Homo sapiens: one gene and its partner. The protein of the gene in region 1 interacts with the protein of each later gene in a pairwise test. Each region holds a gene or a part of one and is shown on either strand. Other genes may lie near its edges.

Region 1 (5,421 bases):
AACTTCTTGCCTGTATGGCCTCCCTTTTTGTCACTAATAAAGTCATGATACTTGTCCTTCCTTCTTCCTGAGATTCTTGTAAAAACAAAGTACAACAATGTAAATAAAAGGACTTGGACTTGCAAAGTGCCATTTTAGTTTGTCAGCCCCTTGGCTATGGGGAAGCCAGCTTAAGGCTCCCACTACAACTGTCACCCAAAGTGAGCTTGCCAAAGAAGTACCCTGCTGTGCTGTCACCCAGAGCCCCCACTTGCTACTCAGAATCCACAAACATTAACATTGGCATATTTTAATAAACTACAAGTTTTCATGTAAAGTTGAAGACCCTTTGTTTATTTTAATCCTTGCCCAATCCCATTTCCTTCACTTCTTCCCCAGAGGCAACCACTATGATGAATTCCAGACCACGTTTTACACTTTACCGTGCCCATGCACCCACAGCCACCAGGGCCCAAGAGTGACCACCCCACCCCATCCCACCCCACATACCCTGGTAGTTTACAAAGGGAAGACTAATGTGTTTTCCAGGGGCCCATAAAATACCATTCCACTCCACCCCTGCAAATCCTGAGCTGCATGCAGATGGGGCAGGGGTGGGTGGAGAGACTGCTGGATACCTACTTTAAACCTGCATGGGGATTTGCCCTGATTCCTAAAAGGTGAGAGTTGCAGGTGTATCAAATGGACACCTTTATTGCTTTGAGAACCAGATAACTTTTTTGCTAACAATGGTAAAACTGAAAGATAAAACTGAAGAGAACGTTCTGAAAGGGCAACATGCACGCCCCGCCTAGTGGCCTGACCCAGGGAAGGGACCCCGTGGCTGTGGGGCCCATCTGGGCTCAAGTCTCTTTGACGCGGCCGCCCAGGGTGAGCTTGTCGAACAGGTACTCAGCCAGGCCGGCTTCCGGGGAACAAATCTTGCGCAGGTTGCTCACGTAGCCACCCAGCTCTTTGATGGTCTTGACTTGCTCGTGCAGGTAGTGGCTCTCCAGGAAGTGGCACAGCTGGGGGTCGCCCTTCTCCACGGCCAGCTGGTACAGATCCAGCAGGCTCTGGTTGACGTTCTTCTCCAGGTGGAAGGCGGACTCCATGGCCACGAGCCCGCTCTCCCAGCCTTGGCACTCTGGCTTCCTGATATCGTGAAGGCAGATGTGGCCACCGCGCAGGTTCTGCAGCCTCATCAGCTTCTGGGCATGCTCCATTTTGTCGTCCGACAGGCGCAGGAAGTAGCGGAAGAAGTTCTCCAGGGCCACGTCGTCCCGGTTGAAGTAGAAGGCCATAGACAGGTACAGGTAGGAGGTGTAGAGCTCCAGCGTGATGTGGCTGTTGATGGCGGCGTCGCAGTTGGTGTCGTACTTCTGGCGCACCTGCGACGGCTGGGCGGTGGCCATGGCGGGCAGCGCAAGTGCAGGCGAGCACACGGGCGAAGTCGGTGCGGTAGCGAGGGCAGCAGCTGAGGTGACAAGAATGGCGGATAGTGAAAGGCGGGTGTGCGATGAAACCGGAAGTGGGCAGTGGAAGTGGGCAGTGGCGACCGTTAGGGAGGAGCGCGCTCTGTCGGTGGGGGGAGGGGCGGCGGGGGACAGAGTTGCGGGGCAAGGGGGTGGGGGCACAAGCGCTGACTTCCGTCGGAAATCCCGGCCACTTGGCGCTGAATGTTTCAAGACCATCTTTTAAAAATAACTGCTCTAGGCCGGGCACGGTAGCTCACGCGTGTAATCCCAGCACTTTGGGAGGCCGGGGCGGGCGGATCACGAGGTCAGGACATGGAGACCAACCTGACCAACATGGTGAAACCCCGTCTCTACTAAAAATACAAAAAAAATTAGCCAGGCATGCTGGCGCGCGCACCTGTAGTCCCAGCTACTCGGGAGGCTGAGGCAGGAGAATTGCTTGAACCCAAGAGGCGGAGGTTGCAGTGAGCTGGGATTGTGCCGTTACACGCCAGCCTGGGCAACAGAGCAAGACTTGTGTCAAACAACAACAACAAACTGCACTATTGAGATACAATTCCTCTGCCATAAAATTCACCCTCTGAAACATTTCCATGGTTTTTAGTATATTCATGAAGTTGTGTAACTATCACCCCATCACCAAAAATCTAATTTCAGAACGTTTTCCTTATTCCAAAATGAAATCCCCTACCCATGAGTAGTTACTGCCCATCTCGCCTTCCTCACTGGCCCGACAACCACAAATGAAATCTCTGTTTCTAGAGATTTGCTTACTCTGGACATTTCAAATAAATCATACTATATGCGGCCTTTATATGGCCTCTTTCATTTAGCATAATGTCTTTAACTTTTGTCTTTTTTATGGCTGAATTATATTTCATTGTATGGATATACCACATTTTATTTACTCATTCATCAGTCGATGGGCATTTGAGTTGTTTCCATTTTGTGACTATTATGACTAATGCAGCTATGAGGATTTTTATAATAGACATATGTTTTCAACTCCCTTGGGTATATACCTGGGACTAGAATTGCTGGGTCATATGTTAAGACTCTGTTTAACATTTTGAGGAACTGCTAGACTGTTTTCCAAAGTCCCCTCATCATTTTACATGCCCACTAACAATGTATGAAGGTTCCAACACTGTCATTGTCTTTGTTGTTTTTCTAGTGGATGTAAAGTGGTATCTCACTGTGGTTTTGATTTGCATTTCCATAATGGCTATTGATGTTGAGCATCTTTTCATAGTCATTTGTATCTTCTTTGGAGAAAACTCTATTCAAGTCTTTTGTCCATTTTAAAATTGGGTTATTTGTACTTTTATTGCTGAGTTTTAAGAGTTCTATATATATTATGTGTGCCAGTCCTTTTTCAGATATATGATTTGCAAATATTTTCTCTCATTCTGTTTTTTTTTTCACTTTCTTAATGGTGTCCTTTGAAGCACAAAGTTCTTAATTATGTTCAATTTTTCTGTTTTTCTCTTGTCACTTGTGCTTTTAGTGTCCTATCTAAGAAACCATTGCCTAATTCAAGGTCATAAACATTTATGTCCAGGTTTTCTTTGAATAATTTTACAGTTTTAGCTTTTACATTTAAGTTTCTAACTCATTTTGAGTTAATTTTTGTATATGATATGAGGTCATTGTCCAATTTCATTCCTTTGTGTGTGGATATCCAGTTGTCCTAGCACCATTTGTTGAGAAGACCATTCTTTCTCCACTAGATGGTCTTGGCACACTTGTCAAAAATCAATTGACCATAGATGTATGGGTTTATTTCGGGACTCCCAATTCTGTTCTGTCAATCTATGTGTCTAAACTGATGCTGGCACAACACTGGCTTGATTACTATAGCTTTGTAGTAAGTTTTGAAATTGGGAAGTATAGTCATCCAACTCTGCTCTTCTGCAGAGATTGCTTTGGCTATTCTGGGTCCCTTGAATTTCCTATGAATTTTAGGATATGCTTGTCAATTTCGTTTTTTTTTTTTTTTTTTTTTTTAAAAACCAGCCTACTGGGATTTTGTTAGGGATTGCATTAAACCTGTAAGTCATTTGTGGGAATATTGGTATCTTAATATTAACTCTTCTAGTCCATAAACATGGGATGTCTTTTAATTTATTTGGGTCCAGGACGTTTAAAAATAAAGATTTTGATTTAGGCTGGGGCTCCAAATCAGAATTTCTAAGCATCTCAGGTGATGCCAGACCACATTCTGAGTAGCAATGCTCTAAGAGGGAGGAGGCCTCTATCCCTTATCAAGGTTTAGAGATAAAGAGGACACATATATTGGACTCCACAAGCAAAAATTCCTGTTCTCACATCACAGACAATGCTTGTGCTATTTATTATACTAGATGTAGTTTTTTGTGGGAAAGGGAAGAGACCTTTCTCCTATCACAAAAAATTGTGAAAGACTTTAAAATCAGCAAAAACAATTTCCTGGATGTGGTTTTTAGAGTACCTTTCTGGGTTATCTCCATCTTTCATTGACTTAGAGTTATTTTCTAACTCTTCAGATTGTAGAAAACTAATAATAATGCAAACAATTCTTGTCCACAGAAATGCAAATAAATGTCTGGTGAAATGCAATTGATTTTTGACTTATTTTGCATCTATTTGTACATTCCTTATTTCAATATTCCTTATTCCTACATATGTATGGCTCTTTGAATTCTCCTTTGAGCCATTTGTAACATCTTACTAGTTTCCTCATTAATTAATAAGTTAAATAAAATGTTTCATGCACATATTTTATATTTATATGAGAGTCATGATTTTACTTTTTTCCTCGTAATTATTCTTTAGCACTCCCCAGGTCCACCCCCACCCGACCAGGAACACAACTGAAGCCCAGGGAAGTTGACTTGGTAAAGTGAGCACTTTTATGGGTTGCTCACCTGAGATATGATTCCAGAAAATTACTTAGGACCTAAAGGCATAGAATTCCTGACTGTGGAATTCTATATGGACTATGGAAAGATAGCCTCTCTGAGGAGAAGGAGGCAGGGAGTAGTCCAGGGCTGTAGGAGACCAACGAAAACTAGCAGAGGAAGTGGATATCCAGGGAGCAGGCCACAGAGGTACCTCACCAGCAGAACACTGTAGCCACAGTGGGGCTGAGGCTGGCCTGATGCAAACTGGGGAGGATAGAGAAGTAGGGGTGACCAGTAAAGGTCTGTAGAAAACTGGAACCAGCTGAGAACCAGGGAAGTGATGAGAGTTTCCAGGCAGAGAATGTAGTTAACAGAGATTTGAGGGGTGGAAGGTTGACTGACTCAGATGGGAGTTTGACAGGCTGAGGTTCATGGTCTGAGTAAAGTTAACCCTGGGAAAGAGGTAGGAACCTGAGCTTTTGGAGCCAGGATGAAGGATCCTCTCATCAGCACTTTTGTGCTCCCTGAATCATACCCCTGGAAGGGGTGTTCGGATCCACAGATACTAAGAGTGTGGAGTATCCAGGACTGGGCCATGGGCTTCATCTTCCAGAGAAGTTTCCTTCCAGCTGGTGATCAGATGTAGGGACGCTCTAATGCATTCTTCTTGGCCCTACTATGGGACAACTTTTTAGCACAAAGGCCGTAGGACAATGGTTGCTCCTATTTGGTTGGACACTACTGAGACGTCCAACACTCACACCCATACCATATTCTAAAGAAGAAAATGCTCTTTCCAGTCTCTAATTCCTTGCTGTTCTGATTTTGGGGGAAAAAAGAAGAATCACTGTCTTGAGGAGCAAAGGAAAACCCTCAGAACTTAGACATGCCCATTGTATGTAAGTTGATGGCTGATATTCGTCAGTTAAATAGGAATTGTTTCTAAGGTTATAACTTTTCATTTCTATTCAGTGTGCTGAATAATCTCCATCTACCTCTCTAAGACTACTCTCTGCTTTTCTCCATCTTACTTGGCACACTGGGAGGGGGAGGTTGACCTGTATGTACTGCACCCCTAGGTC
Region 2 (6,373 bases), on another chromosome or scaffold:
TGGACCAGCTACTTGGGAGGCTGAGGCAGGGGACTGGAATGTAGGGTTTGGTGCTGCAGGAAGCTGTGGTCGTGCCACCGCAGTCCAGCTTGGGTAATAAGGTGAGACCCTGTCTCTTAAACCAAAAACATAACAGGCCAGATAGCTTGAGCCCCAGAGTTTGAGACTAGCCTGGGCAACAAGGTGAAACTCCATCTTTACAAAAAATACAAAAATTAGCCAGGTTTGGTGGCACATGCCTGTATCCCAGCTACTTGGGAGGCTGAGGCGGAAGGATCCCTTGAGTCTGGGAGGTTGTGGCTGCTGAGAGCCGGGATTGCGCCACTGTACTCCAGCCTGGGCGACAGAATGAGATCCTGTCTCAAAAAACATGAAACATACCAAAAAAAAAAAAAAAAGTTTCATAAGCACAGCTGCCACAATGTTCCTGGACTTCCCATGTTATTCCGTTCAATAAAGTCACGTCATTAATTTAGCTGTGATCCTATTTTCATTGTATCATCTAATCAATTCACAAATTGCACGTCCTTATTTTTGGCTCAGAAGAAAAAACAAAGGTTGCAGTAAATCCAGACGTGACAGCCAAGTTGGCTTGCTCTTTCTCCTCCTTCCACATTTTGTTGCTGGGCACACTGAAGACAGGGCCACTCAAAAAGAGACCCTCGCTGACAAATCGGGACCAATTTTGATTCCCTGGAAACCATCATTTATTTTTGGTAAATGCCAGTGAGGAATATACACGTCATTCCTGCAGAAAAGTCTATAGCATTTAAGTCTTGAAAACAGGTGACAATTGAAAAACATTATAATATTTTCAGGTCTTTTAATAATTCAATGCTCTGTGTCCTTCAGGCTGTGAGACCCTAAGGTATTGGGGTCTGGTAATGTCCCAGCTATAGCAAAGGGCCTGTTGGGTGACATAGGACAAATATACAGCAAAATTCAGAAACTGCAAGTGCTTCCTCACTTGAACGGATCTGGCCCCTTTGTGGTAGGGGCTTGACTGTTCCTAGAATGAATGACTTAAAATAAGGTGGTTAAAAATTCTGCAGTGAGTCTCGCCATGGTGAACAAACATGATTCAGAAATGCCTCCTTCTATAAAATGAAGGAGCTGGGTTGGAGTCAGTATTACCAGCCAGACCATACCCTGATGGGTAAAGGAAATTCTCTACCACAGAGCTCAGCAGTGAGGTGGCTGAGAGGAAGGCAGGCCTGCAGATGAAAGCGTGGGAGTGGAGCATGTGGGGCGGGCACTGTCCGGCTGGGAAAACCCAGCCTTCAAGAGGCCATTGTCAATCAGGCTGGGCACGGTGGCTCATGCCTGTCATCCTAGCACTTTGGGAGGCCAAGGTGGGCGGATCATTTGAGGCCAGGAGTTCGAGACCAGCCTGGCCAACATGGTGAAACCCTGTCTCTACTAAAAACACAAAAAATTAGCCAGCCGTGGTGGTGCATGCCTGTAATCCCAGCTACTCGGGAGGCTGAGGCACGAGAATCACCTGAACCCGGGGGATGGAGGTTGTAGTGAGCTGAGACTGCGCCACTGCACTCCAGCCTGAGCAACAAAGCAAGACTCCATCTTGGCAGGGGGCGGGGGGATGTGGACCTTCAAGTCTCAGAAATATGTGTTTGTCTTTTGATCTGCTGATTTGGTGTAACGTGATTGCCTCATTCATTCCAGTGTACGTACTTGCTGTAAATTTATATACAGAATTAAATAGCCCATTTATTAATTTATAAACCATAATAAAACCAGACAGTCATTTCCCGTCACCAGCAGATCTTGCATTGGAAAAGGAAAATAATATACAAATTTCAGCAACTTCAGAGATTTCAGGAAGCCTGAATGGAGGTCGAATTCATTTTGGAGTTCAATAATATGTTCAAAGAATCAGGTACTATATATAATCATATAGACAACTCCCGTAATATCTCCGCAGTGCAAAATTATCCCTGTTTCTTGTCATTCACCAGTGAGAAAAATCCAACTGCAGACTTGACTGCCTTCGGTGAAGGCACACGGCAAGTTCTTCTGACAAATAACACCCTTTGGGATTGACTCTTCACGTTTTACACAGCAATTGTCTCAGCTTGGGACCAAAGTATTTACAAAGCAAGCGAACAAGAGACGAAGCAAGAGGGACACTTCTGAGGCCGGTGGTGCGGAAACTCACCGCCAAACAGGGTGGGGGGCCAGTCACCTCTTCAGGAGTGTCCCATGTGTCAGCTGACATAACATCTTAAATACAGAATTCCAATTGAAAGAAAAACAAACAACAACAAAAGAAACACCAGTCAAGCATAAGTGATGTTACTTCCTCTCTGAACAGGGAAACATCTCGCTCGCTGGGAGATAAAAGGTAAATCTCTCATTTGCTGCTCTCTTCCCCTAAGTGCCAGCAAGAAGCTGGGTGTGGTGATGAAGAAAGAAGGCAGCCATCACCTAAGACCCCACAAGCCAAGCCGTGGTCCCCTCCGTGAGGGCACGGTCCTTTCATGAAGCCGTAAAAGAGACCACAGCTCGGACCTGAGCACTCAGGGTTACCTACTGGGGTCTTGTCATATTCCTTATGTTGATTTCTGCCAAGACCCAAACTGATTCCTTTTTTTTTTTTTTTTTTTTGAGACAGAGTCTCACTCTGTCACCAAGGCTGGAGTGCAGTGGTGTGATCTCAGCTCGCTGAAACCTCCACCTCCTGGGCTCAAGTGATTCTCCTGCCTCAGCCTCCCAAGTAGCTGGGATTACAGGCAGGTGCCACCATGCCTGGCTAATTTTTGTTTTAGTAGAGATGGGGTTTCACCATGTTGGCCAGGGTGGTCTCAAACTCCAGTGATCCACCCACCTCAGCCTCCCAAAGTGCTGAGATTACAGGCATGAGCCACCACGCCTGGCCCCAAACTGACTCTTGACCAAAGAATCTGATTTGGCAAACCAAATCTTAGTGCAGTGTTCGCTCCTCGTCCCCTTACCCAGAACATGATTCAGATCCTAACATAAACACAAAAACAGGTCAGGGAACCAAAACACTGTGGTCTTGTCTATTATACAAAATATTGAGATAATGTTCACGATTCATTCTGTTTTCAGCAATTGTGACAATTTTGAAGCTTCTCTCGAAGCTTCGAAACACTTCATTTCCTACTAAATACCAAAACGTGTCAGACAGGCATCACCAGTGGGAACTTGGTTTTGTTTTGTTTTTTTTTTTGAGATGGAGTCTCGCTCTGTTACCCAGGCTGGAGTGCACAATCTCGGCTCACCACAACTTCTGCCTCCCAGGTTCAAGCAATTCGCCTGCCTCAGCAGCCTGAGGAGCTGGGACTACAGGCACGCGACACCATGCCCGGCTAATTTCTGTATTTTTAGTAGAGATGGGGTTTCACTATGTTGGCCAGGCTGGTCTCGAACTCCTGACCTCGTGATCCGCCCATCTTGGCCTCCCAAAGTGCTGGGATTACAGGTGTGAGCCACTGTGCCTGGCCGGGGAACTTTGTTTTTAAACGTTTACAAACAAAAAGATTTTCGATGCATAGGCCAGTCCTAATGCATCCCATAATGGGGACCAAGGCAAAAACACACACACACAACTACAAAATATTCCCTAGAAAAATGCAAGATCCTCCGAAAATCAAGATCTCTCTACCAAACAACATACCAAGTCATCACAGAAGAGGTGAAGATGCCTCTCAAAAGACATGTGCCACAGAAATAGAGCTTGAAATACTGAACACGATTTCTCGAAGATCCTTCTCACCACCCCAAGAGAAGCGCCCTGCTCTGGTGAGGGAAGAGGAGGCAAAGGAGAAGAGAGAAGTTTCCCTTCCATCTGGATCTGGGTGGATGCCAACCCTGACGTGCAGGGCAGAGCACCAGGCTGCAGGAACTGGATGCTAATTGCAATCGCTTTTTGCTTTGGAACATTTGCCAGGAACTTGTGAACTGCTAAGGGGATGACCAGGAAACTGGATCCATCTCTGTGGCTGGGGATGTTTTGAATGATTCTCGCGGGCTCCCTGTCTGCTTGGTGACCCTGTTGGTCCTATGCGTATCTGCGCCAGGGAATTAAACTAGCCAGTCTGACGTTCTCAAGCACCGCCCTGGACACCCCCACTGCCAGTTCATGGTCTACAGCCACAGTGACCCCAGCTTTTCACACAGGTCCTGAATGTTATCTGGAATGCAGACACAAGTGCTCTGAGCTACACTGCTTGGGGAATAATTCCACATGGAAAGGTACAACGTGGCCAAGATCTCCGCAGGGACACGGCCCTCAGATGACAGACTCCAGGAAGAAAGAGCATGAGACACTGGTCTCTGTTTAGGTTTGCCCAGAGCTCACGGCCGTCTGCACTGCAGGCAACGCATCCTCCTGCGGCTCACGGGGGGCCAGGAACCCCAGGGCTTCTGATGGAGAGTTATGCACCGTCCCCTCGGCTGGGTTGTACATTCACTGATTGTCAGAAGTTTCTGATACTGCTGTGGGGGCCGGGGAAGGAGTCACCAACAGTCTGGTCCTGTCCTTTGGACTCTACACATCATAGCGGTTCAAACTGTACGAGTTTGGGTAGCTCTGCCGGCTGTATTGGAAGTGGTCTGTTAAGATGTTGTTGCGGCCGTACTGATAGTCCCCGTGCTGGGGGAAGAGGAGGCCGTTGTGGGGCTTCTCCAGTGGGCTCCGGTGACGCTCCTTGCTGCTCAGGTCTGCTGTGGTGACGGGGAGGAGGTGCTTCCTGGCTTGCTGGTTTGCATCGTACTTGGTCTGTGCCAGAAAGAGAGCAATGAGACAGGACATGCCCGGGGCATAAGAGCTCGTAATTCAAAGTCAATCAACTGGCTGGCTGCGGTGGCTCACACCTGTAATCCCAGCACTTTGGGAGGTCGAGGCGGGAGGATCACCTGAGCTCAGGAGTTTGAGACCAGCCTGGGCAACATGGCAAAACCCCGTCTCTACTAAAAATACAAAAAATTAACCGGGTGTGGTGGCGCATGCTGTAGTTCCAGCTACTCAGGCGTTCTGAGGCACAAGAATCACTTGAACCCAGGAGGCGGAGGTTGCAGTGAGCTGGGACCATACCACTGCACTCCAGCCTGGGAGACAGAGCAAGACGCTGTCTCAGAAAAAAAAAAAAAAAAAAAAAAAGTCAGTTAACCTCCGGGGCCGGCATAAGTCATAGGGCTTGAGCAAGGAAAGCAGACTTGAATGGACCAGACCACAGTGCATGGACAGACTCAGAAGACAAGTCCTTGGCCAGGCGCAGTGGCTTATGCCTGTAGTTCAAGTGCTTTGGGAGGCCTAGGCGGGAGGATCACTTGAGGCTAGGAGTTGGAGACCAGACTGGACAAAATAGAGAGACCCCATATCTACATGTGTTAAGAAACAAATGAAGAGGCCAGGTGTGGTGGCTCATGCCTGTAATCCCTACACTTTGGGAGGCCAAGGCAGGTGGATCAACTGAGGTCAGGAGTTGGAGGCTGGCCTGGCCAAGATGGTGAAACCCCATCTCTACTAAAAATACAAAAATTAGCCAGGTGTGGTAGGCGCCTGTAGTCCCAGCTACTCGGGAGGCTGAGGCAGGAGAATCGCTTGACCCCGGGAGGCGGAGGTTGCAGTAAGCTGGGATGGAGCGCCACTGCAATCCAGCCTGGGTGACAGAGCCAGACTCCATCTCGAAAAAAAAAAAAAAAAAAAAGAAAAGGAAAAGAAGGCAAGCCCTCCCTGTTGGCCATCCCATGTCCTTACACCGCACTAAACAGAGCCTTTGAGAGGAGGGAGGGAAAACCCCAGCTGAGACACAGCCGGAATGATTTGAGGACCTGAGGTTGCCTATGCAGGAAAAAGGAAGCCAGAGTGGGATGGGGCTACGCCAAGATCATAAACCAGTCAGTGGCAAAGCTCTGACATACAACCCCAGCCTTGAGCGCCCGGGAGGCCCTTCCTTTTCTGACTTCCTGGGTGTTGGGGGGCCGGCTTCCTTCCCTGCCCAGCCTCTCAGACTCTCACCTTGTTATAGAGGAAGACCCCCAGGATGGCGGTCATCATGCCCAGGACGTTGGTGCTGGTGACTGGGTTGCGCAGCATGATCAGGGACACCGTGATGACCATGATTCTTTTGGTGGCATTGGCGACCGAGTAGCTCAGGGGGCTAACGAGGTTGAGGATGCTGAAGGCGATAACATTCTGGGCAAAGTTACAGAAGCCGCTGACAGCCAGGAGCAGGAGCGTCCAGGGCCACTGGTAGACGTAGGTCTGCAGAGACCGGAAGGTAAAGACAGCACTTCAGTGGGCAGCGGTGACCCTGCCTCCCTGTATCCACCTGGCAGGGTTAGGGGAAGGGATGTGGAGGGGCTCATCTGGAGCCTCATGGTCCAC

Evidence for each region.
Region 2: the proteins of FTHL17 (region 1) and SLC35E1 interact in binary tests that used the Homo sapiens proteins (3 or more experiments, as listed by UniProt).

Annotation. Positions count from the first base shown.
Region 1 is NC_000023.11:31,070,560-31,075,980, forward strand, and holds FTHL17 (ferritin heavy polypeptide-like 17), read right to left. Parts: upstream 1,483-5,421; 5' UTR 1,395-1,482; coding exon 843-1,394; 3' UTR 674-842; downstream 1-673.
Region 2 is NC_000019.10:16,549,148-16,555,520, forward strand, and holds the end of SLC35E1 (solute carrier family 35 member E1), read right to left. Parts: intron 6,251-6,373; coding exon 6,005-6,250; intron 4,763-6,004; coding exon 4,532-4,762; 3' UTR 690-4,531; downstream 1-689. UniProt on the Homo sapiens protein: Putative transporter.